Linked DNA regions of Homo sapiens: region 1 is linked to region 2. The links come from fine-mapping of genetic effects on gene expression. A gene starts in region 2. The other region holds a variant in brackets. All regions are shown on one strand. Distances are from middle to middle. Region 1 overlaps LOC105378198 (a long non-coding RNA gene). Region 2 holds the start of WDR55 (WD repeat domain 55).

The links. PIP is the estimated chance that this variant, and not a neighbour inherited with it, causes the effect.
Region 1: its variant is fine-mapped to the expression of WDR55 in whole blood (TOPMed, PIP 0.98).

What each region holds. Positions count from the first base shown.
Region 1 is chr5:140,730,257-140,746,443 of GRCh38, reverse strand. It overlaps LOC105378198 (a long non-coding RNA gene), which reads right to left. Exons shown (of 4, transcript XR_001742904.2): 2 at 14,284-14,347; 3 at 12,877-13,359. Among named protein-coding and RNA genes, the nearest start is that of ZMAT2, 38 kb to the right of the region's middle. The variant C/T (reference allele first, on the strand shown) is at 7,225.
Region 2 is chr5:140,659,518-140,672,771 of GRCh38, reverse strand. WDR55 (WD repeat domain 55) reads right to left here and starts at 7,868. Exons shown (of 7, transcript NM_017706.5): 1 at 7,669-7,868; 2 at 4,438-4,538; 3 at 4,270-4,357; 4 at 3,981-4,160; 5 at 3,782-3,881; 6 at 3,524-3,693; 7 at 427-3,439. The coding sequence starts at 7,859. The coding sequence ends at 3,118. It overlaps IK (IK cytokine), which reads right to left. Exons shown (of 20, transcript NM_006083.4): 14 at 12,938-13,016; 15 at 12,577-12,657; 16 at 11,957-12,014; 17 at 11,064-11,152; 18 at 10,765-10,873; 19 at 10,559-10,593; 20 at 10,292-10,470. The coding sequence ends at 10,443. It overlaps LOC124901088 (a long non-coding RNA gene), which reads left to right and starts at 7,335. Exons shown (of 2, transcript XR_007058968.1): 1 at 7,335-7,407; 2 at 7,615-10,361. It overlaps DND1 (DND microRNA-mediated repression inhibitor 1), which reads left to right. Exons shown (of 4, transcript NM_194249.3): 3 at 1-327; 4 at 1,022-1,978. The coding sequence ends at 1,479. RefSeq lists enhancers at 1-322, 7,734-7,863, 8,214-8,373, 7,791-8,457.

The DNA.
Region 1 (16,187 bases), 72 kb before region 2:
GTCCCAGCTACTTGGGAGGCTGAGGCAGAAGAATTGCTTGAACCCGGGAGGCAGAGGTTGCAGTGAGCCGAGATCACACCACTGCACTCCAGCCAGGGTGACAGAGAGAAACTCCCTCTCAACAACAACAACAACAAAAAGTCTTAGCCGGGCGCGGTGGCTCACACCAGTAATCCCAGCACTTTGGGAGGCCAAGGCAGGTGGATCACAACGTCAGGAGCTCGAGACAAGCCTGACCAACATGGTGATACCCTGTCTCTACTAAAAATACAAAAATTAGCCAGGCATGGTGGTGGGCGCCTGTAATCCCAGCTACTCAGGAGGCTGAGGCAGGAGAATTGCTTGAACCCAGGAGGCGGAGGTTGCAGTGAGCCAAGATGGTGCCACTGCACTCCAGCCTGGGCGACAGAGCGAGACTCCATCTAAAAAAAAAAAAATACTTAGGCCAGGCACGGTGGCTCATGCCTATAATCCCAGCACTTTGGGAGGCCGAGGCAGGCAGATCACGAGGTCAGGAGTTCAAGACCAGCCTGGCCAACATGGTGAAACCTTGTCTCTACTAAAGATACAAAAAATTAGCCAGGCATGGTGACGTGCACCTGTAATCCCAGCTACTCAGGAGGCTGAGGCAGGAGAGTTGCTTGATCCCGGGAGGTGGAGGTTGCAATGAGCCAAGGTCGCACCATTCCACTCCAGCGTGGGTGACAGGGCGAGATTCCATCTCAAAAAAAAAAAAAAAGTCTTATCTGAGATTCTTTATGGAACAGAGTTCCATCAAAACCAATTAAAAGAAGCCTATGTGGCAAATAATTATTCTTGCTGCACTTTAAACAAATAATTAGGCCAAGTATATTAAAGCAAATTGGTCTTACCATGATTTGTCTTTAGTAAAAATGGGAGACTGGAGAGAGAAAAAATATGTTTCAGGAACTATGGTACACCTTTTGTCAGATTTTAGTCTCATCAGTTGTTTTTGAGTTTTTTGTCTGCAATTTAGACTGCTTATTCCTGTAAACCAACCAGTGGTGTCTGGCTGATAGAAGAAACAAGAAGGATAGGTGATATAAAAATGTGGATCAATATTCTAATTCTGGGCATGTATTGAAATCAGCTAGTGACTCCATATTAGCTCAGTTCCAACAGTTGCCTAGCTTATGGAAAGCCTTCTTATTTAGTTTACTTGAGATAACTTTACTTATTTTGCTTTACTTTTGTGGAATATATTGGTGTTGTGCTCTTTGCATAGGAATGCAGAACAAGCTTACTCAATGTTTTCCCAAATTAAACACTTATTAATCTTCCAGATGTCACCTTTTATCAGTACTCAGGGTTATGAATGGTGCTTGACATACTGATGCTTTCTGATTGAGCTACTCTCTACCCTGAATACAAGAGACCCTAATAATTAGGCAGGAATATCATTGCCCCTATTCAGCCTGAAAAAGTTACAAAACATGGATCTTCATCCTGCTACAACCCTTAGGATTAAGAGTTTTCTTATAAAAGGGAGGGAGGGGCCAGGTGCAGTGGCTCACACCTATAATCCCAACACTTTGGGAGACTGAGGCCAGTGGATCACTTGCGGTCAGGAGTTCGAGACCAGCCTGACCAACGTGGTGAAACCCCGTCTCTACTAAAAATACAAAATTAGCTGGACATGGTGGCACACACCTGTAATTTCAGCTACTTGGGAGGCTGAGGCAGGAGAATCACTTGAACCTGAGAGGCAGAGGTTTCAGTGAGCTGAGATCATGCCATTGCACTCCAGCCTGGGCAAAAAGAGCAAAACTCTGTCTCCAAATTAAATAAATAAGTAAATAAATAAATGGGAGGGAGGAAGTCTGTCAGAGGCCTTTGAATCAGAGCAACTCCATCTTGAATGGAGGCTGGGTAAAATAGGGCTGAGACCTACTGGGTTGCATTCCCAGTCACATTCTAAGTCACAGGATGAGATAGGAGGTCGGCACAAGATACAGGTCACAAAGACCATGTTAATAAAGCAGCGTGTGGTAAAGAAGCCAGCCAAATCCCACCAAAACCAAGATGGCGAAGAACGTGACCTTTGGTCATCCTCACTGCTCATTATATACTAATTATAATGCATTAGCATGCTAAAAGACACTCCCACTAGTGCCATGACAGTTTACAAACGCCATGGTAACATCAGGAAGTTACTCTATATGGTCTAAAACTAGGAGAAACCCTCAGTTCTGGGAATTGCCCACCCCTTTTCCAGAAAACTCATGAATAATCCACCCCTTGTTTAGCATACAATCAAGAAATAGCCATAAAAATAGGCAACCAGCAGCCTTCGGGGCTGCTCAGCCTGGGGGATAGCCATTCTTTATTCCTTTACTTTCTTAGTAAACTTGCTTTCACCTAAAAAAAATACCCAACATCAATTATCATTAGAAAAATGCAAATTAAAACCATATAAATATCATCTCACACCAGAAAGAGAGGGAAAATAAGTGTTGGAAGGGGTGTGCAGAAATTGGAACCTTTGTGCACTATTAATGGGAATGTAAAATGGTGCAGCCTTTTTAGAAAACAGTAAGGCAGTTTCTCAGAAAATTAAAAATAGAATTACCGGCAGGGCACGGTGGCTCACGCTTGTAATCCCAGCACTTTGGGAGGCTGAGGCCAGTGGATCATGAGGTCAGGAGCTCGAGACCAGCCTGACTAACATGGTAAAATGCCATCTCTACTAAAAATACAAAAATTAGCTGGGCATGGTGGTGTGCGCCTGTAATACCAGCTACTAGGGAGGCTGAGGCAGGAGAATCGCTTGAACCCGGGAGGCGGAGGTCGCAGTGAGCGGAGATCATCCCATCACACTACAAAATGACAAATACTATATGATTCCACTGATATGAGGTCCCTAGAGTAGTCAGATTCACAGAGACAGAAAACAGAATGGTGGTTGTCAGGAGCTGGAGGATGGAAAATGGGAAGTTGTTGTTTAATGGGCATAGAGTTTCAGTTTTGCAAGAAGACAGCCCTGAAGATTGACTGCCCAACAATGTGAATGTGCCTAACATTACTGAACTGTACACTTAAAAATGGTTAAGATGGTAAATTTTATATTATGGATTTTACCACAGCTTTTTAAAATTATTTTAAAACTGGCTGTCACAAAAAGGAAAAGAATATCAGGTGAGATTGGTCTAGATTAAAGAGACTGGAGAGATGTCATGACAACTAAAAGCAATGCATGATCTATAATTGGTTCCTGACTTTAAAAAATATTATATATATATATATTATATATGTATATATGTATGAGTCCAATTGTCCAACCAAGTACCAAATGTCATTCTTCATTTCTTGCAGGCACTCACATTCTCCACAGAGGCCTACTGAATTCTTTCTCATCACATGGCTCCCTAGATGAAAGGAAAGGTCTCACACTGTGACAACCTTCCCCCAACCCACTATCAAGGATTCTGACAACTATCCCTTTCCCTAGTACCGTCTTTATACAAACTGGGGATTGGGGAAAGGTAAGGGGGTGATATCGTGATTGGTTATCAGAAAGCTGGCTTGGCCACTAACTCTTGGCAATCAGGTGGAAGCTACTCTTAGAATTACTTCTTTCTGTTTTCAGCATAGCTCAAATTCCTGGGCAAAAGAAAAACTCTTAACCAGATGGGGCAGCTCATGCCTGCAATCCCAACATTTTGGAAGGCCAAGGCGAGAGGATTGCTTGAGCTCAGGAGTTTGAGACTAACCTGGGCAACAGAGTGAGATGCCCTCTGTACAAAAACTTCTTAAAAATTAGCCAGGTATGGTGGCATGTGCCTGTAGTCCCAGCTACTCGGGAGGCTGAGGTGGGAGGATGGTTTGGGCCTGGGAAGTTGAGGCTGCAGTGAGCTGTGATTGTGTCATTGCACTCAGATCTGGGCAACAGAGTAAGATGCTATCTCAGAAAAAGAGGGGAAATCCCTTGCATATTATCCTTTTACTTATTATGACAATTATTATTCTCTTTTCCCTTGTTTTGCTTTTTCAGGCTGGTCAACTATCTGTTCATTTGCTCTCTTCTGTATATGGGTGTAGGGGCATGGCTCTGCCACGTTGACCTGCCAACCTTATATGTACTCACATAGGCCATACAGGCAAGGCTTAACCATAATTAATCAAAGTCTTGGCGGACATTCTGTGATCCTTGGGGAACAGGCTTATGAGGAACTACCACAAGGCCACTTTCAACTCATCTTTTTATCTTCTTGGGAGGCTGTCATGAGGCAGTTCTTATCACTTCCCAGGTTCTGATAAGGTATGAGGCATTCTGCCTCATCTTTCTTAGGGCAGAACTGCAAGCCATAAACTTCTTAGTTGCAAATGGACTCAGCTCCTCAGCAACAGGGTGTCTCATTACTCAGGTTGCCATCCCCTTTTGTATTGGTGCTGTCCTGTGGGAGAGCTGGAAATTCTGCTTATTTCCTTTTGTGTCTATGTAAGTAATAAACTGTCTGAATCAAACAAGGACTGCTGTTTCTTTACTAATCAAAGCTGCTAGGATTTGCCTGAGAATGGGTTCTTATTTTTCCTTGAAGTTCTGTTTCAAAATAGTTTCTTTTTCAAACCTTGTCAACTTGTCTTGGCAACCAGGGATTTGGTTCATATCTGGGAGAGATGACAGTAGTGAGAAGCTGCTCAGAGGAACTGTGGGGATCTGGAAATTTGGTGAAGAGCAGATTTACTCATGGAGTAGGTCTCAAAAGACTCTTACCAAGGCTAACCTCCAGAGTTTCTGTCCCAACCTTAAACCTCTTCAGCTCCTGACCCAGCCTAGTCTTCTCAGGAATCCATGCCGTTTTAGACCCCTCCTTGAAAAAGGGCTCTCTCCCATCTCCAAGAAAATGATAAGCTTGGTGGGGACATACATAGAGGACTAAAGAGGGTCCATGGACATCAAACCTGCCCCCAAAACACAGACAGGAAGAAGCATGCAAATATATCACTGAGATAATGCAGAAAGTAGATTGAATTTGGAGTTCCTTGACAGATAAGTGTCATGAGTTGGTATACCCTGGGCAGTAGGGTCAGCCTAGGCCTGAATGGTTCAAGAACGATGCTGAGTTTTAAGTTTCCTTCTACCCACCACAACTTCCAGACCAGGACACACAAACTTGGGAAGCCCCCATTTGAGGATGCACACCACTGAGAGAAACCCATGTCTTCCTTTCCCTAAAAACTGTTCCCCCAGCTGTGTCTAGGCTCACTCTCCCTCCTCCCACTCAGTGGCTACCTGCCACAAGTCTTGGACCAGCCTCAGTGCTTCCCAGATGACCAAACCGGGGTCATTTTAGCTCAAATCAACTTTCACAGCCAGTACATGAGTCAGACCCATGAAATCCTCCCAAACTGCCAAATGCCAGCCTTGGGTCTTTAAAGCTACCAGAGCTTCATTGTTACCTGGTTACTAGGTAATAACCCACAACAATTACTCCTCTCTGGATCTGGGCCTAAACATTCTGGTATCTTATAGCTCTTTTGTATTAATACTTTCTCTGATTACCTGAAATGATATACCACATAGAAAACTGTACTAAGAGTTATTGAAGAATGTGCAAAAAATTAACAAGAGGTCCAAGGAAAACTAAGCACATGAAGAAAAGTCAAGCATTAACTTCAGGAAAAGTAGAAAGAAGAAAAGGAGACAATCATGGTATATGACCATGTTCTGCTGGGAATTATATTTTGCAAAGGCATAAAAATGTTAACATGAATATTCATCTAACAAAGAATTGTTAGGGCCAGGCACAGTGGCTCACACCTATAATCCCAACACTTTGGGAGGCCGAGGTAGGAGGATGGCTTGAGCCCAGGAGTTCGAGATCATCCCATGCAACACAGTGAGACCTCATCGCGACTAAAAATAAAAAATTAGCTGGGCGTGTGGTATGTGCCTGTGGTCCCAGATTCTTGAGAGGTTGAGGCAGGAGGATCGCTTGAGCCCAGGAGGTGGAAGCTGCAGTGAGCCATGATCGCACCACTGCATTCCAGCCTGGGTGAGAGAGCAAGAGCCTGTCTCAATAAAAGAAAAAGAAAGAAAAGAAAAATTAAGTCATTTCAATCATATACAAACTATCCTAATTAATAAGAAGGAACACTTCCTAAATGATTTTCTAATGCTAAAATAACCTGATAGTGAATCCTATTGTAAAAAATACACACAAAAAAGGAAAAGCCCAGTCTAATGTCATTAATGTAAATAAATGAAAAAAAACCCATACTAATTATTAGAAAATTAAATCCAGTAGTACATAAAAAAGAATAATACAGCATAAGTAGAATTTCTCCAAGATATGAGGTTGACTTAACATTATAAAAGTAATTAGTATATATGCAAAGTTAATGAACTAAAGGGAAAATCATGATTATCTATGTACATGCAGAAAAATTACTTAATAAAATTCAACAACCTTTCATGATTTTAAAATAATCTTAATTAATCTTAAGATTTTTAGCAGATATTAGTTGTATCCTTAGGCATATAAGAGAATATTTGTAACTTGGTAAGGGTGTCCAGGGGAAAAAAAAAAAGCTAAAGCAAACATCATACTTAATGGTGAAATGATTAAAGCTTTCCCTTTGAAATCCAGAACAAGACAGGGATGTCTGCTATCATCACTTTAATCATCCTGTCGTCATTGTTCCAAAGGGCCTAACCAGTGTATACAACAAGAGAAAAATATAAAGGTCTGAGGTGTTCATATGGCATTCTCCATGGTTAGAAAAAGAAGGGGAAAAGTATAAGGAGGTTATTCCGTAGGATTTTGGGGAACAGGTGGTATTTGGTTACGTGAGTAAGTTCTTTAGTGGTGATTTGTGAGATATTGGTGTACCCGTCACCAGAGCAGTATACATTGAACTCAATTTGTAGTCTTTTATCCCTCACCCACTTCCCACCCTACACCCCTGAGTCCCCAAAGTGCACTGTATCATTCTTATGCCTTTGCAGCCTCATAGCTTAGCTCCCACTTATGAGTGAGAAGATACACCTTCTTATATGAAACTTTTTTATTTAGAGTTAAAACTCTGTATGTTTAGAGTTAATACGAGTATAAAACTCTCCTTATTTAGAGTTAATATGATTATAAACATTATAATATCCAGCAAATTTACAGAAAAACTAGTAGGTAATAAGAATAGCAAATTTTCTGAACATGGAAGTAAATATTCATGAAAGGTCATTTATAAGAAAAACAAACCTGA[C/T]GCTTCATTATAAAAACAAATATTAATTACATCTCATGGGTCAGAAGTAAAATTTTTAAAAATAAAATAGGTTTTAAAATTTAAAAATATTAAATTGGCAGTGAGGGAGCAACTCACAAATTATTTTATAACGACAAATGTTATCATAAAGGCCCATGCTTAAGAATCAGGCTGAAAGTTGCTTGTTCTGGGCCAGGGGTGGTGGCTCACGCCTGTAATCCCAGCACTTTTGGAGGCCTAGGTGGGTGGATCACTTGAGGTCAGGCGTTCCAGACCAGCCTGGCCAACATGGTGAAACCCATTTCTACTAAAAATATAAAAATTAGCCAGGTGTGGTGGCCCACACCTGTAAGCCCAGCTACCAGGGAGGCTGAGGCAGGAGAATTGCTTGAACCCTCCAGGCGGAGGTTTCAGTGAACCAAGATCACACCACTGCACTCCAGCCTGGGCAACAGAGTAAGACTTTGTCTCAAAAAAGAAAAAAAAAAGTTAATTATTCTGCAGAACTTGGAGGTGATCCCAATGGTACCTCTGAGAAGCCACCCTGTCATTCTAAAAAGGATGAATACGATTAAGAAACATGTTCACCAGCCTGGGCAACATGGTGAAACTTTGTCTCTACTGATACAAAAATTAGCCGGGAGTGGTGGTGTGCACCTGTAATCCCACGAAACTGAGGCATGAGAATCACTTGAACCTGGGAGACAGAGGTTGCAGTGAGCTGAGATCGCACCACTGTACTCCAGCCTGGGCAGCAGAGTGAGACTCTGTCTCAAAAAAAAAAAAAAAGAGAGAGAGAGAGAAAGAAAGAAATATATTCAGAGGAATCCTATGAAGAAATAGAAAGTAAAACATCTAGTATTTCATCATTAATAGGTAATCATAGAGAAGAATAAAAAGAAGAATAAGGAAGGATATGAGGAGAATTGTTACTAAAGGAAATCTATGTTGTATTTTACTAATTGTTCATTTTGGGGCTTTTTTATTTTTATTTTTTTGTAGAGACGAGGTCTCACTATGTCACCCAAGATGGTCTCAAACTTCTGGCCTCAAGTGATCCTCCTACCTCGGCCTCCCAAAATGCTGGGATTATAGGTGTGAGCCACTGCACCTGGCCTCCTGTTCATTTGGATTTTCACTTCTCTGTTTTATTCTTCGTGCCTTCATCTTACTTTAATATTTTCTAAAATTCTATTTTGAGTTAATACTATGTTTTTTAGTGCATCTCTTTGTATAACATGTTAGCGGTTGCTCTGTCCACAACTTATCAAAGTCTATTCATTTTTTTCCGTCTAATTTCTCTCTGTTGTTTAGGTTGGATAATTTTTATTATTCTATCTTCTAGTTCACTTGTTATTTTTTCTGCCTCCTCCATTATGCTGCTGAACCCACCCACCCCATCCACTGAGGTTTTTATTTCAGTTATTATATTTTTCAGTTCTAAAATTTCCATTTAGTTCTTCTTTTATCATCTATTTCTTTGCTTATGCATTCTATTTTTCATTTATTCCAAGAATGTTTATAATTGCTTATTGAAGCATTTTTACAATGGCTAATTTAAAATTTCTGTCAGATAATTCTAATATCTCTGTCATCACAATGTTGGCATCTGTTGATTGTCATTTTTTCATTCTGTTTGAGATCTTCTGGTATGATAAGTAACTTTTCATTAAAACCTGGATATGTTCATATTATATTCCGCTACTCTGGATCCTATTTAAACCTTCTGTTTTAGTGGGATTTCTCTGATACCATTTAGGCAGAAGGGGGAACAGAGAAAGAAGGAGATGTCACCTAATTACTGCCAGGTGCAGGCAGAAGTCCAGGTTCCCCACAGAGCCTCCATTGCCACCTGAAGAAGGGAGCTCATTGTTACTGCTGGGTAAGCATGGAAGTTCTGGCTCCCCTGACACCACAGTGAGGATGGCCACATTACCACTGGGTAGAGGTCTAAGTCCAGTCTTCTCATATAATCCCCCCTGCTGGGAAGGGAAGTATTAACAAAAGATCATGAGATTTGAGGAAGAAGAAAAAAGAGAGTTTTATTTCCTATAAATGGTTACAATCTGCAGGTTGGGAAATGAAACATCCAGCCAAAATGAAAAGCATCTGCTTCAGAGACAAAAGGGAGAAGCTGGGACTTATGCCCAACAAGATGAGCTATATGTACATATTCAGTAGCTTATAGGAGAATCTATGAATATTTGAGAAAACCCTAATGCATGCAAAGAGAATAAACATATATGTTACATATGTTCCATGTTCATTTTGGGGTGGGGATTTAATAGTAAAGTGAAGTGGCACGTGGCTGTTTATATATAACAAGGTGAAACAGAACACAAAGGCATCTTGTGCACAGCCTCTGTGGACTAGGTGCAATCAGTCTGTGGTCGGTGGTCAGTATAACAATGGAATGTTTAATAAGGCTGGTCAGTAGTCATGGTGAAACCACGATAAAAGAGGGGAGGTCAGCCATGACATCAAGAGGTCTCTTGAGGTTGAGGGAGAAATCTTCCAGACAGTTTTTTAGGAACTCGTTTCTGTTTAATTGTAGGAAGGAAAGTTTTGAGGCAGTTAACAAGGTAGGGGAGTGTTGAGGTGTGACTGACCTCTTGCCTTGCCAAAGCCATAGAATGCAGTTTTCAAAGTTTCTGGGGTCTCTTTTGCAACAAGAAGTCCATTCTGTTTCACCTAGGGGCTTAGGGACTTTAGTTTTATTTCACACTTTCCAGCTTTAGGCTGAAATCTGCCATAGGCAGCATTGATGGCTAAATTTTCTAACATGTCCCATGTCGTTCCCAGGATGGTGTGGATACCTGCCCCAGGTCTATCTAGTCTGTCAGTGGGACTCATGTGGCTAGGAGACTTACAACCAGTTGAATATTTTAGGCCAGGCAAGAAGGAGGCAGACAGCTATTAAGACCCTTTGAACCTTTGAGACTAGAAAAACAGTAACAACAGAAAAGTTGAGAAGGTAAGTTTATGTTTATGTTGTCTGTCATTTCTATGCATTGTGCTACCATAACTTTGGTTTTAGTGACAGACTTGAAGTAGTTGGTTATAGATCTTATAAGTACTTTGACTATCAAAAATAGGAACAAGATAGTGATATGATAATGACAAGGGTTTGTAAGATGGATTGGAAGTAATTTCTAATACTGCAATGAGTCAGCTAAAAACGTTATTAAGGGGATCTGTGGTTTGTACCTCCTGTAACCAGGCAGCCTGTTGGGTGATCTTACCTACATGGGTTGTTAAATCTCCTATAATGTTGATATAAGTGCAACAAGTGGTGTGGGCTATCATGCAAATTCCCCCTTGTTTAGCAATGAGAAAACCTGGTGCAATTTGATTGTCTAAAACCACTTGAGCGAGAGAATTTAAGGACTTCTACTGTGTCATAATACTTATTGCAGCATTTTCAGCAATTTGTCCTATGGTGGCCGGCATTTTTTTTTATCGTATCTCTGTTAGTGTATACTCCGTAGCTGAGAAAAATTACACCCCAAAAACTATGCTACCACATATCCTGATATCCACTTGGTAGCTCTCTTTTAGCTTACCGGAAAGCAAGATTTTCTTTATGATTGAGATGGATGGAAAAGAGGGCAACGTAATGACCTAGAAGGCAAAGTCCTTCAACTTGCCAGCTGTTTATGCATCTGTGTGCCTCTTCTTGAACTGGGGGATCTGACTCAATTCTATATAGGAAAGTGTGTCCTCAAGGGGCACAAGTTATACCTCCAAGGGTATGCCAATTTATACGTTCATTTATGAACAAGATATCTATTATGTGAGTGAACCACGAACTGGTTTTGTTGCAAGCCTTCTAGAAGCCTGCAGAGGCATGATATCTAACAAAGAGGAGCTGTTGTCAGTGTTTGATATTTTTTCTTTGGGCATTCAGTGGTTATGTACAGTAGCAAGGGTGGGAGTCCCAGAATCTAAGGAGAAAGCTACATAGACATAAAAATCTTAATCTTTTTAAAACTCAGTTTTCTGGTTTGGTGCAGTGGCTCATACCTGTAATTCCAGCACTTTGGGAGGCTGAGGTGGGAGAATTGCTTGAGCCCAAGAGTTTGAGACCAGCCTGGGCAATATACTGAGACCTAATCTCTACAAAAACCTTTTCAAAAGAATAGTAAAATTACCTTTTACTCAAAAGGGTAAGGGTTAAGGTGTGGGTTTGGTAACAGAAGTGGTCAATAAAACTAAAATTGTGAGGAGTGAAACAGAGGAGTCCATTTTAGTTATAAAAAAATTAAACCAAGAGAGAAATCATAAATTCCATACAAATTGCTGAGGGTCACTATCTAGAGTCTGGGGGTATTCTTTAAGGTAATGGAGTATTTGATTAACAAGGAGCATGGTAACTATGTTTTCTAAAGTGAGGATTATAGGCTCTGGGAAAGGGATTTTGGACTTGGAGGTGGATGAGAAATTTTAGAAGTATCTAAAAATGGAATACAAGGGTAAGCATTGTAGCACAACATAGGATCTCCAGAATACATAATATTCCCAACGTCAGGGTAATCAGTCAATAACGCAGGTACTTGAGGCAATGGCAATGGTAATTTGTCTTAAGTCAAAAGTGGGCGAGTTAAAATACAGCCCTGGTCCAGCATCTTGGACAGGCAGTCCACCTCAGCTGTCATCTTCTTCTCAGCCATGAGGTGGAACCCTAGTCTAAGTCTGGTGTCAGATACTGGTGTTGAGGTCCAGTCTTCCGCGGAGGGAAGAACTTCGTTATTCCAAGTGAGAAATTGGTATTCAAATATGTTAAAGTCTTTTCGATAGAAAGCAATTTGGATTATAGCTTATTGCAAATGTTTTTAGAGAAGAATTAAAAACAGTAACTGTAGATGACAAAAACTTAGAATGGCTATGGTTAAAATCTAATGAAAGTTCTCAATTGACAAGAACATTTAGTTATTTACATTATATGTAGTATTTTAAGATAACAACCAAAATTATGACTGATAACACATTAGATCTTTCTGAATTTATATAAATTTTGAACCATTTATATCAACAACATATCATAGTGTAATTAAAAGAAGATCTAGTATTGCTTATTATTTGACAATGTTTTTATATAATTTACCAAATAAGCCTAATCATTTAAAATATCTCTATAAAATGAGAGATATATCTGTTGAAGCTTTTTAGGGGCCCAATTAGAAAATCTTAAAGTTAATTCTAAGTAAAAAGACTTAATTTAGGATTGATTTTGAGGATGTTTGTCAAAGATGTTAAAAGGCCCAAAATATTTGATCAAAACAGGATCACGGGTCATTGTAAAATAATATTCATTTAACCGAAGTGACAATCAAAAGACTTTAAAAGTAATACAGAAAGCTACATAAACATAAAAATATTAATCTTCTTAAAACTCAGTTTTCTGACTTGGTGCAGTGGCTCACGCCTGTAATTCCAGCACTCTGGGAGGCCGAGATGGAGAATTGCTTAAGCCCAAGAGTTTGAGACCAGCCTGGGCAATATACTGAGACCTCATCTCTACAAAAACCTTTAAAAAAAAATTAGCCTAGGATGGTGGCACATGACTGTAGTCCCAGGCGTTTAACTGTAGGAAAGAAAGTCTTGAAGCAGTTAATGAGGTAGGGGAGTTTTGAGGTGTGACCGAACTCTTACCTTGCCAAAGCCATAGAATCCAGCTTTTAAAGTTTTCTGGGGTCTCTTTTGCAACAAGGAGTCCATTTCATCTTGCCTGGGGACCTACGGGCTTTATTTTTATTTCACAGAGGGAAAAAGGGAACCTCATAACTGGTCAGCATGGATAAAAATTTTGTCCCCTATTTGGCCTTCTTTAACACCACGTTGGTGGGGTCTTGGGGTAACTTCTTATAGCCGCTCAGTGGTGGAAGTTTAGGCTCCTACTCAGCCTTTGCTGAAGTGGGTGGGGCCATAGTTGTTGGAGTGTGTGTGTGTGTGTGTGTGTGTGTGTGTTTGGTGTTTGGCTGGGGTAGAACAGTTATTGTCTAAGAATTTTATGTCTTTCTAAGCTGTCCTCTTCCTGATCCTGGTCCTATGAATAGAGAAAGCAGACTTTTGCTGGGGCTTTTAAAATCTGCGTCCATTGGCATTTCCAGATTGCCAGCTTCTTCAGTTCCAAGTCTGGAATACAAAAGGAAAAAAAAACTTACGACTGTGTTGTACCTTGAGTCTTGAGATCCCTAGCTGGTCTGCCTTTTGTCTGCCTTTCATTGTATTACATTTGTTTTATGTACAATGCTTTGGGGTTTTAGCAGGATGAATGGGGAATATTACATTTACTCCACCTTCCTGGAAGCAGAAGTATGTGTAATATTTTGAATAAATACCATAAACTATTCCATGCATTCATGAAATATGCAATTTCTCATTCACCAATGTAAATGGCTTGATTCACCATTATAGAACCATGCATAAGTACAACAAGGAAGTTTTATTTAGGGAAACTCAAGCAAAAATAAAAAGGCAATTTGTCAAATGTAAAAAGGTATTTGCCTGCAAATATAAGAAGTATAGACCAAGCGCAGTGGCTCACGCCTGTAATCCCTGCATTTTGGGAGGCCAAGGTGGATGGATCACCTGAGGTCAGAGTTCGAGACCAGCCTGGCTAACATGATGAAATCCCGTCTCTACTAAAAATACAAAAAATTAGCTGAGCGTGGTGGCACGCACCTGTAATCCCAGCTACTCACTCAGGAGGCTGAGGCAGGAGAATCACTTGAACCCAGGAGGCAGAGGTTGCAGTGAGCCGAGATCCTGCCACTGCACTCCAGCCTGGGCAACAACAGCAAAACTCCGTCTCAAAAAAAAAAAAAAAAAAAAAGAAGTATAATAAACACTTTCTATGTTCCAAACCTCTTGCTAAGCACTGTTGTAGCTCTCATAACCTATACTATATTGAGGAGCCCAAATTGCTTTCGAAAGTATTTCTACTTTCAAAAGTATTAAGTCTTTTGACTTACTTTCCATACAGCAATGCAAATAAGCAACTGCTACGCACAACAAAATAGATGAATCTAGAAACATAATGAGGGTCTTTGGCCATACCATCTTGAACGTGCCCGGTCTCCTCTGATCTTGGAAGCTAAGTAGGGTCAGGCCTGGTTAGTACCTGGATGGGAACATAAGGAGGAATGAGAAAATCAGTCACGTATTATTCCATTAATACAAAGTTGAAAAAACAAAACAATCGTAATATTAGAAATCACCTCAAGGCTTTCTTCTGAGGACAAGTGTGAGAGAAGTGACTACAGGAGGCTCTAGAAGGGCTTTATGGAACAGTCCTATTTATAGACATGTGGTGATTTCATGGTTTTCTTTACTTTGTATTAATTCATAGAGCTGTAAATTTATGATTTGGGTACTTTTTTGAAAATATACTATTTTATCTAAAGATGTATTTTTAAAAAAAGACGCACACTATTCAGCATTCAAGGTTAAATAAGAAAATACATTACGTGGGCCGGGTACAGTGGCTCACGCCTTTAATCCCAGCACTTTGGGAGGCCGAGGTGGGCAGATCACGAGGTCAGGAGATCAAGACCATCCTGGCTAACACGGTGAAACCCCGTCTCTACTAAAAATACAAAAATTAGCCGGGCGTGGCGGTGTGCACCTGTAGTCCCAGCTGCTGGGGAGGCTGAGGCAGGAGAATGGCTTGAACCCGGGAGGCAGAGCTTGAAGTGAGCCGAGATCGCGCCACTGCACTCCAGCCTGGGCGACAGAGCAAGACTCCGTCCCAAAAAAAAAAAAAAAGAAAAAGAAAAAGAAAATACATTATGTGAATTTATTCTATATACTTAAAATGAAGATTTTGTCTTTTTTCATGAAAATACAATGAGGTACCAAATTACAGCCATAAAATTGACAAAAATTTTTAAAGTTGTACAATGCCAAATATTGGGGACATGATACACTGCTGGTAGATGTGTAAGCTGGTAGAAATACTTTGGAAAACCACTGGGCAAAACTATAGAACTGAAGACATGAATCCACTAAATACTTAGCAGTTTGACTCCTAGGTATGTACCCTGGAGAAATATATGCTGAAGTGCCGCAGGACATATGTATAAGATGGGAATATCTGTTTTTTCTGGGTTTCAGTTATTATGAACAATGAACCAAAACTAGAAATGCTACAAATATCCATCAATATTAAAATGAATAAGTAAATCATCTTATATTCATTAAATGGAATAGTAACCCACAACATAAACAAAATGGATAAATCTTACAAATGTATTATTGAACAAAAGAAGCAAAACAAAACAAACACTTCAATATAACTATATTTATGAAAGTAATCAAAATAGGAAAACTAAATTATAGCACCCAGGCATTCATACATAAGTGGTAAAGATATAAAGAAGAGTGAGAAAATTATTATTATAAAAATCAGGTAAATGGAGGGGGCGGGCACAGTGGCTCACGCCTGTAATTCCAGCACTTTGGGAAGCCGAGGTGGGCGGATCACTTGAGGTCAGGAGTTCGAGACAAGCCTGGCCAAAATATTGAAACGCTGTCTCTACTAAAAACACAAAAATTAGCTGGGCATGGTGGCACATGCCTGTAATCCTAGCTACTCAGGAGGCTGAGAGAGGAGAATCACTTGAGCCCAGGAGGCAGAGCTTGCAGTGAGCTGAGATACCCCCACTGCACTCTTGCCTGGGTGAAAGAGCAAGACTCTGTCTCAAAAATAATAATAATAGTAATAGAAATATTAATAAATAAATAAAAATCAGGTAAACAGGGCTGGGCACAATGGTGCATGCCTACAGTCTCAGCACTGGAGAGGTTGAAGCAAAAGGATCACTTGAGCCCAGGAATTCAAGGCTGTTGCCACTATGATTATACCTGTGAATGGCTACTATACTGCAGCCTGGGCAACATAGCAAGACCATCTTCTCTAAATACAATAAAAATAAATAAGATAAACAATCAGGTGAATGGTT
Region 2 (13,254 bases):
TCAGCGGCCTGAACCGCGGCTTCGCCTATGCCCGCTACAGCTCGAGGCGCGGCGCGCAGGCCGCCATCGCCACGCTGCACAACCATCCGCTGCGGCCGTCCTGCCCGCTGCTCGTGTGCCGCAGCACCGAGAAGTGTGAGCTGAGCGTTGACGGCCTGCCGCCGAATCTGACCCGCAGCGCGCTGCTGCTCGCGCTGCAGCCGCTGGGTCCCGGCTTGCAGGAGGCGCGGCTGCTGCCCAGCCCCGGACCGGCGCCCGGGCAGATCGCTCTGCTCAAATTCAGCTCGCACCGGGCCGCTGCCATGGCCAAAAAGGCCCTGGTGGAAGGTAGGCTGGGGCGGGGGTGCTGGTTGGGGCCAAACGCGTTCTGCCCGGCACTTTATACTGAGCATAGCTGTTAAAGTTACAAGATCTTAGAGTCAAACATGCCAGAATTTGCAACCTTTTACTATTTGATCTCAGATTTTTAAAACTTCCAATGGTGCTACCACCACCGCTTACCTAAATTTGTGACACTTCCCGAGCATTACCTCCTGACTTAATTCTCAACCTTCCCCCACCCCCACACCGCAAAATAGGCACAGGACCCTCAAGCTATGAGGAAACTGTTAGAGAAATTGATTTGCTCAAGGGAATCCAACTGAGCTTTTTACTACTATAGAATCTGTTTCCTCAGACTGTTATGAGAATTAAGTAACATAATGGGTGTACGGTACTTAGCACACTGACTGACTTACAGCAAGTTTTCCCAGTAAAGATTAGCCATTATGATGGTTATGAGGCAGACAAAGCCTGCAATTAACCAGTACTTCTCCAAGGAAACTTGTAAGGTAGCAGTGTGTTATACTCCCTTTGCAAATAATGGAGGCTGAAGGCTTCATTGTCTTTTCTTACCCATGGTCACACTACCAGGAAATGGGAAGGCTACAAATAACAGGACTGTGTAGCTCCAAAGGGCTCACCACCTGGAGGCTTGGGCCCAGGGTTTAGACCTGCCCTTGTCTTTGCATTTTTCCTACAGGGCAGTCACACCTCTGTGGAGAGCAGGTGGCTGTGGAGTGGCTCAAGCCAGACCTGAAGCAGCGACTTCGCCAGCAGCTTGTGGGTCCCTTCTTGCGGTCCCCACAGCCAGAGGGCAGCCAGTTGGCTTTGGCAAGGGACAAGTTAGGGTTCCAAGGGGCTCGGGCTACCCTGCAGTTGCTGTGCCAACGAATGAAGCTGGGCAGCCCTGTGTTCCTCACCAAGTGTTTGGGCATAGGACCTGCTGGCTGGCACCGCTTCTGGTACCAGGTGGTGATTCCTGGGCATCCGGTGCCCTTCAGCGGCCTCATCTGGGTTGTGCTGACCCTAGATGGCCGGGATGGGCATGAGGTGGCCAAGGATGCTGTGTCTGTACGGCTGCTGCAGGCACTCAGTGAGTCTGGGGCCAACCTCCTGTGGTCTGCTGGGGCTGAGGCAGGTACCATGGTTAAACAGTGACTCCATTCTTTCTCCACAGGCACCCTGAATGGGCATGCAGAGCCTGTGTCAGGCCCCATCCCAGCAGGCCTGGGTGGCCACTTTCTGACCCCCAAAGGTGGGGAGGGGCATGGGCCCAGGCCCATCAGCCTCCCTGCTGGGACAGGGACCTATGGCACCTGGGGGCAGCTTAGGTTTGGGTTAAGTTGTGGTGAGGGGCCTTGCCCTCCCGCTCCCAGCCCAGGGTCCAACCTGACCCAGTGATCTTCCATGGCCGTTCCTTGTCCCACCCCCACCCGATCATACCTTCCCCCCTCTGCCACAGCTTAGCATGAATCTTCTTTATTGTCCTGATTTGTCCTCTTTGTTGGTTTTTATTTGTGGGGAAGGGCAGCTGAGCCAAAGGGGTCAGAAATTCTGCCCTTTGCCTCCACCACATGGCATTCTGGTTTTGGTTTCTGTATAGTTTTGGGTCTTTCTATGCTGGTTGTATTTATATTAAACCCCTGGTTAGTATATACTTGTGTCTGTGCTGTCTTGCCCTAGCTTAGAGTTTGTTTACACTGGTAGAGTGAATAGCTGCTACGGGGCAAGTACTTCCTCACATCAGTGCTTTGAGTGCATCTTCTTGTGTTGCACTGTAGGGTATTATAAATTCATATCCAGGCCGGGTGTGTTGGCTTTTGCCTGTAATCCCAGCACTTTGGGAGGCTGAGGCGGGTGGATCACCTGAGGTCAGGAGTTCGAGACCAGCCTGGCCAGCATGGAGAAACCCCGTCTCTACTGAAAATACAAAAATTAGCCTGGCATGGTGGCAGACACCTGTAATCCCAGCTACTTGGGAGGCTGAGGCAGGAGAATTGCTTGAACCCGGGAGGCGGAGGTTGCAGTGAGCCAAGATCACGCCATTGCACTCCAGCCCTGGCAACAAGAGCGAAACCCTGTCTCAAAAAAAAAAAAAAAAAAAATTTCATATCCAGCCAGGCACAGTGGCTCATGCCTGTAATCCCAGCATTTTGGGAGGCCAAGGCAGGAGGATCACTTGAGCCCAGGAGTTCCAAGACCAGCTTGGTCAACATAGTGAAACCCCTGGTCTCTACCAAAAAAAAATCACAAAAATTAGTCAAGCATGGTGGCAGATGCCTGTTAAGTCTCAGCTACCAGGCAGGCTGAGGTGGATCACTTGAGCCCAGGAAGTCAAGGATGCAGTGAGCCATGATCAACCCACTGTACTCCAGCCTGGGTGACAGAGTGAGACCTTGTCTCAAAAAATATAAATTTTTTTGGCCAGGTGTGGTGGCTCGTGCCTGTAATCCCAGCACTTTGGGAAGCAGAGGCAGGTGGATCATTTGAGTCCAGGAGTTGAAGACCAGCCTGGGCAAAACAGACCCGTTTCTACCAAAAAAAAAAAACAAAAATTGGCCTGGTGTGGTAGTGCACACCTGTAGTCCCAGCTGCTCCAGAGGCTAAGGTGGAAGGACAATCTGAGCCTGGGGACATTGAGGCTGCAGTGAGCCAAGATCAAGCCAGCGCACTCCAGCCTGGACGATGGCAAAACCCTGTCTTTTCAAAAAATAATTCATATCCTCTCTGGGGATGCAGCCCAATAAGCAAGACTCTTGCCTGGTGAGGACCCGTCTCAAGATTCAATTCATTCCTTCAGTCACTGTCATCCCCAGTCTCCTCCTTTTCTTCCTGAGCCATGGAGTCTTCTCCCTCTTCCCTCAGTCCTGCGAAGAAGTCATCGGTGCTCCAAGTCTTGCTGCTCAGAGCCCGCAGTGGTCCTCCCTTTTTTTTGCGCCGACGGTAGTCATCCACCACCACAGCTCGCAGCTGGGCCATGTCCCAAAACTTGAGGCGCTGGTCATGGCCACTACTGGCCAGGAAGCGGCCACAGTGGGAGAGGGCCAGCTCCTCCACAGGCTCCCCAGTGTGCTGGCCCACACTGCCCACCACTCGGTTCGGTAGGATGTTCACAGCCCTGGGCAGGGAAAGAACAGTGTTGAGTACTGGCTAGCTGGGTCTGCCCTTCCTGTGACCTAAGGGCTGTCCAGGCTTCCCTCACCTGATGACTCCATCAGTGGAGCCAGTACACAGCAGACTCTCGGTGACTGGAACCATGCAGTCGATAGATTCAGCTCTCAGGGCAAAGCGGTCACTTGTGGCCCCAAAGCCATTCCAATTGAAGAGGTAGATGGTACCTTCACTGGAGCCACAGGCTACCTTCTTCCCCCACTGCAGGGAAATAGAGAAAACAATGTGGAAGCTGCCTCAGACTAAGCCCCCAGCACACACCCCTCCATCCCACCATAACCAGCTGTACTTTCATGAGAGTGACAGAGGTCAGGTCCCCAGACTGAGGTTCTGAGAGCAGCTCAAACCGACGCCTCTTAATGTTGAAGATGCCAAGGCAGCCATCCCCGCTGTAGAGAGTAGAGCAGTAGGCTTAGACGCAAGGTCTATTTGAGGAAGACATTTCACACAGGGAGGGGAGGGGAGGCAAGGCAGCTTTGAAGTTGTACCTGGCTGTCAGCAGCAGCTTTTTGGCTGGATCCAGAGCCATGTCTGCGATGTACTCTTCATGTTGCCTCATATCCATTAAGGGGCCCTCCTTCCGCTGGTCCCAGAGACAGATACCACCTGTGTCATCCCCAGTGGCCAGAACATTCTCATCCACCAGCAGAAGACTATTGATGGGGGCACTAGAGACACAGATGTAGAACTTCTTGGAGCATCTCTGTCCCAGTGGGGACCTCCTGGTCCTTACCCTTCACCTCCATGCACATACACAGAATTGGCTGCTCTCCTTACCCATGAGCCTTGGAAACACGTCTTTCCAGTTGGCCCTGCTCCACATCTAGAACATGGATGGCTTTGTCCTTGGAGACAGTAATGAGCTCTGGGGAAAAGGTGCCCAGGTCATGGTGCTGCTCACTGCTCCCTTCCACCACATTGCTGGTTGTCTTCCCCAGTACTCACTCTGCCCATCTTCAGAGAAGGCCACAGCTCGGCAGGCCTTGAGATGGTGACCTGATGACCAGAGCTCCTTGGTTTCTCCCTCTTGGCAAGAGTAGGAAAAGCTGGGGAGAGGGCAAGGAGGGTAAATGACTCCAGACCCAGCCTGGGTTGCATTGAGTGCAGAGACCAACTAGACAGAGCAGCCTTCCCACCTACCTAAGAGTTCCTGCTTCTACACCTCTAAGCCCAAAAAGTTTACCATCTCATTTCTCCATTTTCAGTGAGTTTGAAATGTTAGGTCCTGCTTTTTTCAATATATGTTAGTTCAAGGTATATTTGCGCAAGATTTCTTTGTGATCCCACCCAACCCCTCTTTATCATCTTTGAAAGCCCCAGCCTGGACAAAGATTGGGTCTGGACCACTGTGGAGGAGATATTTGTTACATCAATGACAAAAGACCAGCCCCAGAAGTTAGAAATCTAAAAATCAGTAAGGTAGAGCAGGCTCTTGCACTTCAGGTCTGCAGGAGCTAGAGAAAGCCACAATTAATTACAGTACATTGAGAGTACGTGCTGAAAAAGAGGCAAGATCAAAATGGAGGTGGGGGAGAGGCACCAGCCTGTAAACAACTTTGAGGTGAGTACTGTTTATGGAATACCCCCAAGTGCCTGCCTCAGAGCAGATCCTCAAAAAGGGCAGAATGAATACATGCTTAATTGCCAGTGAGTTCCAGGTAGGCAGAACTGAGCCTGCTCATTTTCTCTATCCCAGTGCTGAACGTGAAAAAGTAGCTTAATAAACATTCACAAATTGAATGAATACTTGGGAAGGGAGAAGAGAGCCCTGGAAAGCTAAGGTGGTGACATGTGGGTTGGATCATACAAGAGTAGAATTTGCCTGGCAGAGAGCAAGGGCCAGATACTGGAGGCAGCAGAGATAAGGAATGAGGAGGGTTCCTTGTAGCAGGAGAGTAGCATGACTGAATCTAGAAAGATGGGCTGGGGTGGGCATGAGACCACATGAGCCAAGCAGAAGTTTGAATTTAATCCTCGGAAAAGGAACCTTTTCACAATAGTCATGGCTGAGGGTGGGGAAGGGGAGAACCAAGAATTTTCCTCCAGAACCTTTTTTAAGACAAGGGAAGCAACAAAGTTGTGTGGAATGTGAAGAAAGGTGGATGTCTAGGGCAACTCCCAAGTGCCTGGCACCATAAATATGGATAGTAGTAGAAGGGAACCTACATTTGTTGAAGAGCTGCTTAGGTGCTGTACTGCAAACTTGTCCCCTCTGCAAGGGTAGGTATAATTCCCCCTTTCAAAGATGAAAATACAGAAGTTAACACGCTCAAGGCCATTACAGCTAATGAGGGGTTGAGGTTTAAATTCATTAAGTAAATCTGATAAGCATAACATCTTCAACTTTTCCACTGCCTCTAACCTGTATCTTTTGTTCAAAATCAAACATGTGTTGAGCATCTACCCTAGACTAGAGGTTGGAGATAAAATAGAGAACAAAACCGATGACAGATTACACTCCAGAACAGTGTTTTTTCACATTCTAGTCATATAACGGACTAGTAAGCTACGATCAGCATTTTGTGTACATGTACACAATAATAGAATAAAATCAGCAATTGTATCACAGAGCATCATATATAATGTAAAAGGTATTTCTCTGTGAGGCAAGGTCAAAGACGTTTGAAAAACATTAGTGAAGGAGACAGCATTCAAATAATTACACAAATGGACATATGGTTACCAACCATTCATTATTAAGGGAAAGGTACCATGGCACCTGGTGCCATGGCAGCATCTAACAGGTAACCAATTTTAGTCTGGGGAGAGAGGAAGAGGGAAGAGATCCTGGAAACTCAGAGATAGTAGGTAAAAGTGAGGGGAAAGGAGTTTTCCGGACAGAATAGCACATGCAAATGGGCTGAGGTTTCGAGATTTTTTTTTGAGATGGAGTTTTGCTCTTGTTGCCCAGGCTGGAGTGCAATGGCACGATCTCGGCTCACTGCCACCTCCACCTCCCAGGTTCAAGCGATTCTCCTGCCTCAGCCTCCCGAGAAGCTGGGATTACAGGTGCCCGCCACCACACCCAGCTAATTTTTCTATTTTTAGTAGAGACAGGATTTCACCATGTTGGCCAGGCTGGTCTCCAACTCCTGACCTCAGGTGATACCCCACCTTGGTCTCCCAAAGTGCTGGGATTACAGGCATGAGCCACCACGCCCGGCCCAAGACGTATTTTTAAAAGGTATGGATGAATGAGCACAGATGGTCAGGGCGTTGAAGGCAGGATTGAGAAATTTGTACTAAATCCTAAAAGCAGACCATTGAAGGGTTTTAATCAAGGGAGTGTCTCACTCTATTGTCCAAGCTGGAGTGCAGTGGCACGATCTTGGCTCACTGCAACCTCCACCGCCCGAATCCAAGTGATTCTTCTGCCTCAGCCTCCCGTGTAGCTGGGATTACAGGCCCGCGCCACCACACCGGGCTAATTTTTGTATTTTTAGTAGAGACGGGGTTTCACCATGTTGAACAGGCTGGTCTCGAGCTCCAACCTCAGGTGACCCGCCCACCTCGGCCTCCCAAAGTGCGGGTATTACAGGCGTGAGCCAAGATTTGTGGTTTGAAAAATCACTTAAAGGGGCCTGCTGAGCCTGTCTCGGGCACAATATAATAATCCGGTAGGAGTCCGGGCACGGTGGTTTACGCCTGTAATCCCAGCACTCTGGGAGGAAGGCAGGTGGATCACGAGGTCAGGAGTTCAAGACCAGCCTGGCCAAGATGGTGAAACCCCGTCTCTACTACAAATACAAAAAAAATTAGCCGGGCGTGGTGGCGGGCGCTTATAATCCCAGCTACTCGGGAGGCTGAGGAAGAGAACTGCTTGAACCCGGAAGGGGGAGGTTGCAGTGAGCCCAGATCGCGCCACTGCACTCCAGCCTCGGCGACAGAGCGAGACTCCGTCTCAAAAATAAATAGGTAAGTAAATAAATAATAATCGGTGGGAAATAACAAGGCCTTAAAGGGCTTTTTGGCCTACTACGGTATCTGGGCTCTGTCACGACATTCCAGTTCTTTCAACAGATTGGTGTGATAGAAGAGCCGAATGTTACTGAATAAATTGGACCCAAAGAATCTTGCAAAATTTGTCTCCCTGCAACTTTCTCTCATCTCTCCTGTTCCCAGGTCCACCCCCGGGAAGCTTCCAGACCCGGCGCCCCGGCCCTGCCCCGCTCTCACACGAACACGTCCCCGTCCACGTCCCCTGCAGCCAGTAGGTCACGGGCCGGATGGAACGCCAGCCCACTAGCCGGAGCTTCCAGCACGATGTCTTCCGGAGTGTCCCGGATCCGGGTTGGGGCTTCCATGGAGTCTGGGTCCTCCTCGTCGCTCCCATCCTCAGCGGGCCTCTCCTCACAAGTGCGGTCCATGCTGAGAAGGACTGCGAGCCGCGCCGCCGCAGGGTAGTCAGCCTCGGAACCACCCACACTGCGGGAGGAGTAGCCTGGCACTCCGCTTCCGCCTCGGGGGGCGGGGCCGGAAGTGTCTCCGGGACGTTCTTCCTCTTACAGGAGAGGTGGGTGGGCCGCTGCTGGTGCGGGTGGAGCGGAGCGAAGAGACCGCATCTGGGAGATCGGCTACTTCCTTGTCCTGCTGTGACCCCGTTTGGGCTAGGTAGACGGTGCGACCGTCAATTCCCTCCCTAGTCACGTCACGTAAAGTTGAGAACTGCGTGTAAATCTTTCCTCTCCTACTTCATCCAGACAGGCTTAATGCCCTTGGGATAGGAGAGAGGGACGCTAGTCCTTCGTGGCTTGGTGAAACCCAAGATCAAGTCAAGCGACAGCCTGGGCTGTCAGGAAGCCGCAAAATCCCACGCTGCGCGATGACATACGGGAGTCTGGGACAGCAGGCAGCTCAAGCAGCTGGTGTCCACGCCCCTAACGTCTTTGTGGCCAGTTTGCTGTGCCAGTTCCTACAATTTGTCTACAGAAACTCAATGGGCTGGACAAGCAGTGCTCAGTTACCAAGAATTTTTTTTTCTTTTTTGTTTTGCTTTGTTTTGAGACAGGGTCTTGCGCTGTCGCGCAGGCTGGAGTGCAGTGGCACGATCACCGCTCGGCTCAAGCGATCCTCCGAGTAGCTGGAACTACAGGCACGCGGCACCACGCCTGGCTAATTTTTATTTATTTATTGAGACGGAGTCTCGCCCTGGCTGGAGTGCAATGGTGCGATCTCGGCTCACTGCAACCTCCGTCTCCCGGGTTCAAGAGATTTTCCTGCCTCAGCCTACCGAGTAGATGGGACTAGAGGCGCATGCCACCACGCCCAGCTAATTTTTTGTATCTTTAGTAGAAACAGGGTTTCACCATGTTGGCCAGGCTGGTCTCAAACTCCTGACCTCGTGATCCGCCCGCCTTGGCCTCCCAAAGTGCTGGGACTACAGGCGTGAGCCACCGCACCTGGCCAATTTTTGTATATTTTGTAGAAACGAGGACTCAGTATGTTGCCCAGGCTGGCCTTGAACTCTTGACGTGTCTTCCCACCTCAGCCTCCCAAAGTGCTAGGATTATAGGCGTGAGCCACGGCGCCCAGCCCCTGAATTTCTTTTTTTAAATCAAGGTCTTGCTCTGTCACCCAGGCTCAGAATGCAGTGGTGTGATCATAGCTCACTACAGCCTTGAACTCTTCGGTTCGATCCTCCTGCATAGCTATAGACTCATGAACTCCTGGCCTCAAGAGACTCTCCTGCTTTGGCCTCCCAAAGCACTGAGACTGTGGGCATGAGCCATCGAGCCTGGCCTCAGAAACTGAATTTCAAACCCACAATCTCCAGGTCTTGCTTTTAGTGACTCTCCAGATGTCTTCACCTGTGCCATGTCTCTGTGACCATTTTTAATAATTGGGACTGCCTACCTACATCCATAGAACCATGGTGTCATTTGTCTGAAATTAGCCATTCTAGGTGCTATTGCAGCAAGGCCCAATTTCAGCCTCTTACATGCCATGCACAATACTGGCTTCCTCACAAAAACCTGTCCTACCAAGGTGAATATAATCAAAGACAAGGTAATGGCTAAGGTGACTTTCTAGCTTTCTTGGATCTGGTGAGGCCACAAATCTTGGGCTCAGGGTAGACAGTGGCAGCGTGGCATCCAGCCAGGAAGCAGTAGTGACACCTAATGATGAGCACCAGGCCAAAGTGCTGGTAATGAGCAGAAGGGAAGAAAAGGGAAGGGAATGGTGTGATTCAAAGGTCAACAGACCTATTCTGGGCCTTGGCAAATGTTTCAGGGTGATGAAGGGCACCAAACCCTTCTGGTCTAGGATAGGAATTCCTGTACCTGCAGGGCCACACTATATCAGCTCTAAACCCAAAGCACTTCCCTAAGGTTACACCTTTAGCCAAGGAGACAGTGATTTGTACTCAACATTAATAAAGCTCATAGTACATAAACTCATAAAAGGTTTTGGTTCCCACCCATAAGTGATTTTCATTAGATGCCTTCATCCAGAGCCCAGTCCTTCATAGCCTGGAGATCAGATTAGCAGCCCATCAGGCTGACAGCAATCCCCAGGAAATCTTTCCCCAGGGACTAGGCCTGAAGATGGGCCGGAATGAGTCTGACATTTGAGACCAATCATACTTACATTCCTCTATCCACCTCTTGCCCATCAGTGAGGATCATTATTCTCTTCTCTACTGGGCACACTGGCTAGAGAGCATCCTTACTGTCTAGGAATCTAGAACCACAGCTCAGGAAAGGACTGATGACTTTCTGCATGTGATTTTACACAACCAGTGGAATTAGTGTTCTTGGTGCTTCAAGGGCACTGGAGGGGACATGCTCAACAAAGAAAATAGCAAGTTAACCAATTTTAATGGAACCAAGTAATTACACAATAAAATTTTATATTCATCCACAAAAAAACATCTTGCAACCTTTGGAAATTGTAGAAAGAAAACAGTGGGGAGCATATCCTTGTGGAGCATCTCTGGTTGTAACTAGTGATTAGTATTTTGGTCTTTTGACTTCAACCCTGCAATGGAAGGAGAAATGGGTCAGTATAAGATCAATACACTAAGCAATTCCCACCAGTCCCACAGAGGAAGAATAATGCCGCTCACCCATCAGCTTCCATCTTCTTCCTCTTCTCAATGATCTGCAAAAACAACAGGATAGTCTATCACCAAGCTGCCCATCTAAGCTCACCTGAGGCCCAAGGCTGACCTCTCATTTCCATGGCTCTCCAGCCCCTTGCCTGTTCCTGAATCTGCAGGCTAATGTCTTCTCCCAGCTGAAACCCTCCCACCCAAGGGGCCATCCTACTTACTGCACTAATCTTCTTCCACTGGCGATCAAGCTCTGCTTTGTCATTGGTTTCCTTGAAGCGCCTGGTTTTCCGCCCTTCAGACATTTTGATACCATACTGGAATGCAGCCCTGAAAAAAGCAGTTGGGAAAGAATGCATCAGAGATTGCATAGCAGTGGCGAGGTTTTCCCAGAGTCCTGTGGGCAAAGAACTTAGTGGGGAACATCTCAGCCAGACCACACCCTCTAACCTTATATGCACTATTCCACCAAATCCCCACACCCCTCCTCACACCCTGCCCATATTCAGTACCGACTCACTTGGGCAAAGCTTCTTTGTTGTTCATATACTCGCTGTATTCTTCCTGGGTATCAAAGTCCCAACGGCCTAAGGGCCCCTTCTTGTTACCCTGTTGCAGGACAGAATCGGGGGATGGGGAAGGAAGAGATGTCAGTGGAAATGGAATTTCAGCCCTTGATTGAAGCCAGACTCTCCCATAATCCCAGGTTCCACAATTCATAAATCATACCCTGATAAGTAATAATAAATGCTTATTACATACTTACTATGTGACAGGCATTATTCTGTACACTAAATGCATATCTCACTTAATTCTCATAAAATCTATGAAGAGGGAACTATATTTCTCTCCATTTTCCTGATGAGGAAACTGAGGCATAAACAGTGAAAGAACTTGGCAAGTTCACAAAACTAATAAACAGTAGAGGCAGGATTAAACAAGGCTCCAAGATTAAACCATGCTATTTCAATACAGTGAACTCAGGGGAAGAACACAGACTTCTTCACTATTAGTGGCATTAGTGGTTTTTTTCTTTTTAATTTTGCTTAAGACTTAGAGGAAAACTTCAATCCTGGCTAGAATAAAATTTAGTTATTTTCCAAAGACTGCAATTTTTTCTGCCCTTTCTACTTATGCATTGATGCTTGCTTACTGCCTACCATGGGAATCAAAGCCTGGCACTTTGCTATAGGAAGTAAAAAATAGATTTTTGACCCTATGTCATTTGATCTTGTGCAAAGACTCTGAAATAGTTAAGCTGCTCATGACCCTCAATGCTGCTGTTTCTACTGCTGCAGCTAAAGGAGGGTGGGGCCCAGTAAATGAGATAGATTTTTTAGGAGTGGGGAAGGAGATACATGTAAAACAAATAATAACTGCCCAAAGGCGCCCACCATCCTTCTAACTACATACCTGGTCCATTTTGCTATAATCCACCTCCTCATCACTATCCACAGCCATGTCATCCATCCTAAGGAGAAGCAAGAGTTAAACAGATGTTGCATACCCTGACCCTATGCTTCATCTGGAAACCTACCCGACTAAGAGGTTATCTGCATAGGAATGACCACCCCCTAGACCTCCCACTTAGAGCCTAATAAAATAGTTCATCCAAGTAAGAAGTAGCCTTGGGCCAGGCGCAGTGGCTCACTCCTGTAATCCCCGCACTTTTGGAGGCTGAGGAGGGCAGATTACCTGAGGTCAGGAGTTCAAGACCAGCCTCACCAACATGGTGAAACCTCATCTCTACTAAAAATACAAAAACTAGCCAGGTGTGGTGATGCATGCCTATAATCCCAGCTACTTGGGAGGGTGAGGCAGGAGAATCGCTTGAACCCGGGAGATGGAGATTGCAGCGAGCAGAGATTATACCATTGCATTCCAGCCTGGGTGACAGAGTGAGACTCTGTCTCCAAAAAAAAAAAAAAAAAAAAAAGAAGTAGCCCTGGGACTTAGCGAATCAAATTTCCATTTCACCCCCAACTTGTTTCCCAATCATCCCAGCCTCCCTTCCTTAACCAGGTTTCACATACGTGGCTGGGTAGCACTCTGCATAACTGTTGGACATGCCAAAGAAATCTCCCAGCTGCTTTTTGTCTTCTGGCTTCTTCAGCATATGCTATGTTAAAGAAAACACTACACAGGATTCTACCTATTGCTGTAAAGCTTCAGCCAGGAGGGGGCCAAGGGCTAGAAGCCCCAACATGAAAATTCTGAGTGGGCTGTGAGCTGTTATGGGTGCTCTGGGAAGGAACAAGGGATGGTTTCATTCTGTCAAAATTCAGCGTAAAAGGGAAGGAGAGGGGCAGGGTAGGAGGGAGCAGGGAGGCAGGGGGGGTTGGAGTAAAGAGACCAGTTCTCTGGAACCCAGGAACGTATTAAAATAAAGGATATGATTCTGTGCCTTCCCAGCCAGCAGACCCAGCAAACTTTTCATTGATGGACTTGATCAACTCCTTGGTAGACCCAGGTCCTAGGAGAAAAGAGAACTCAGCCCAGACCTTGAACTGAGGCTCTCACAACCTCCTCCCCACAACACACTTAAAAAACATTTTTAAGGCATAGAACCCTTTTGTCTAACAAAGTTTTAAACAAACTCCAATTAATGAGTCACTCTGGTTGAGATGAGGGTAGGGTATCCAGAACATTCCATACTTGACCTCTACCTCACCTCCTCAGAACCCCAGGGCCACAGGAATTATATCTAAGAG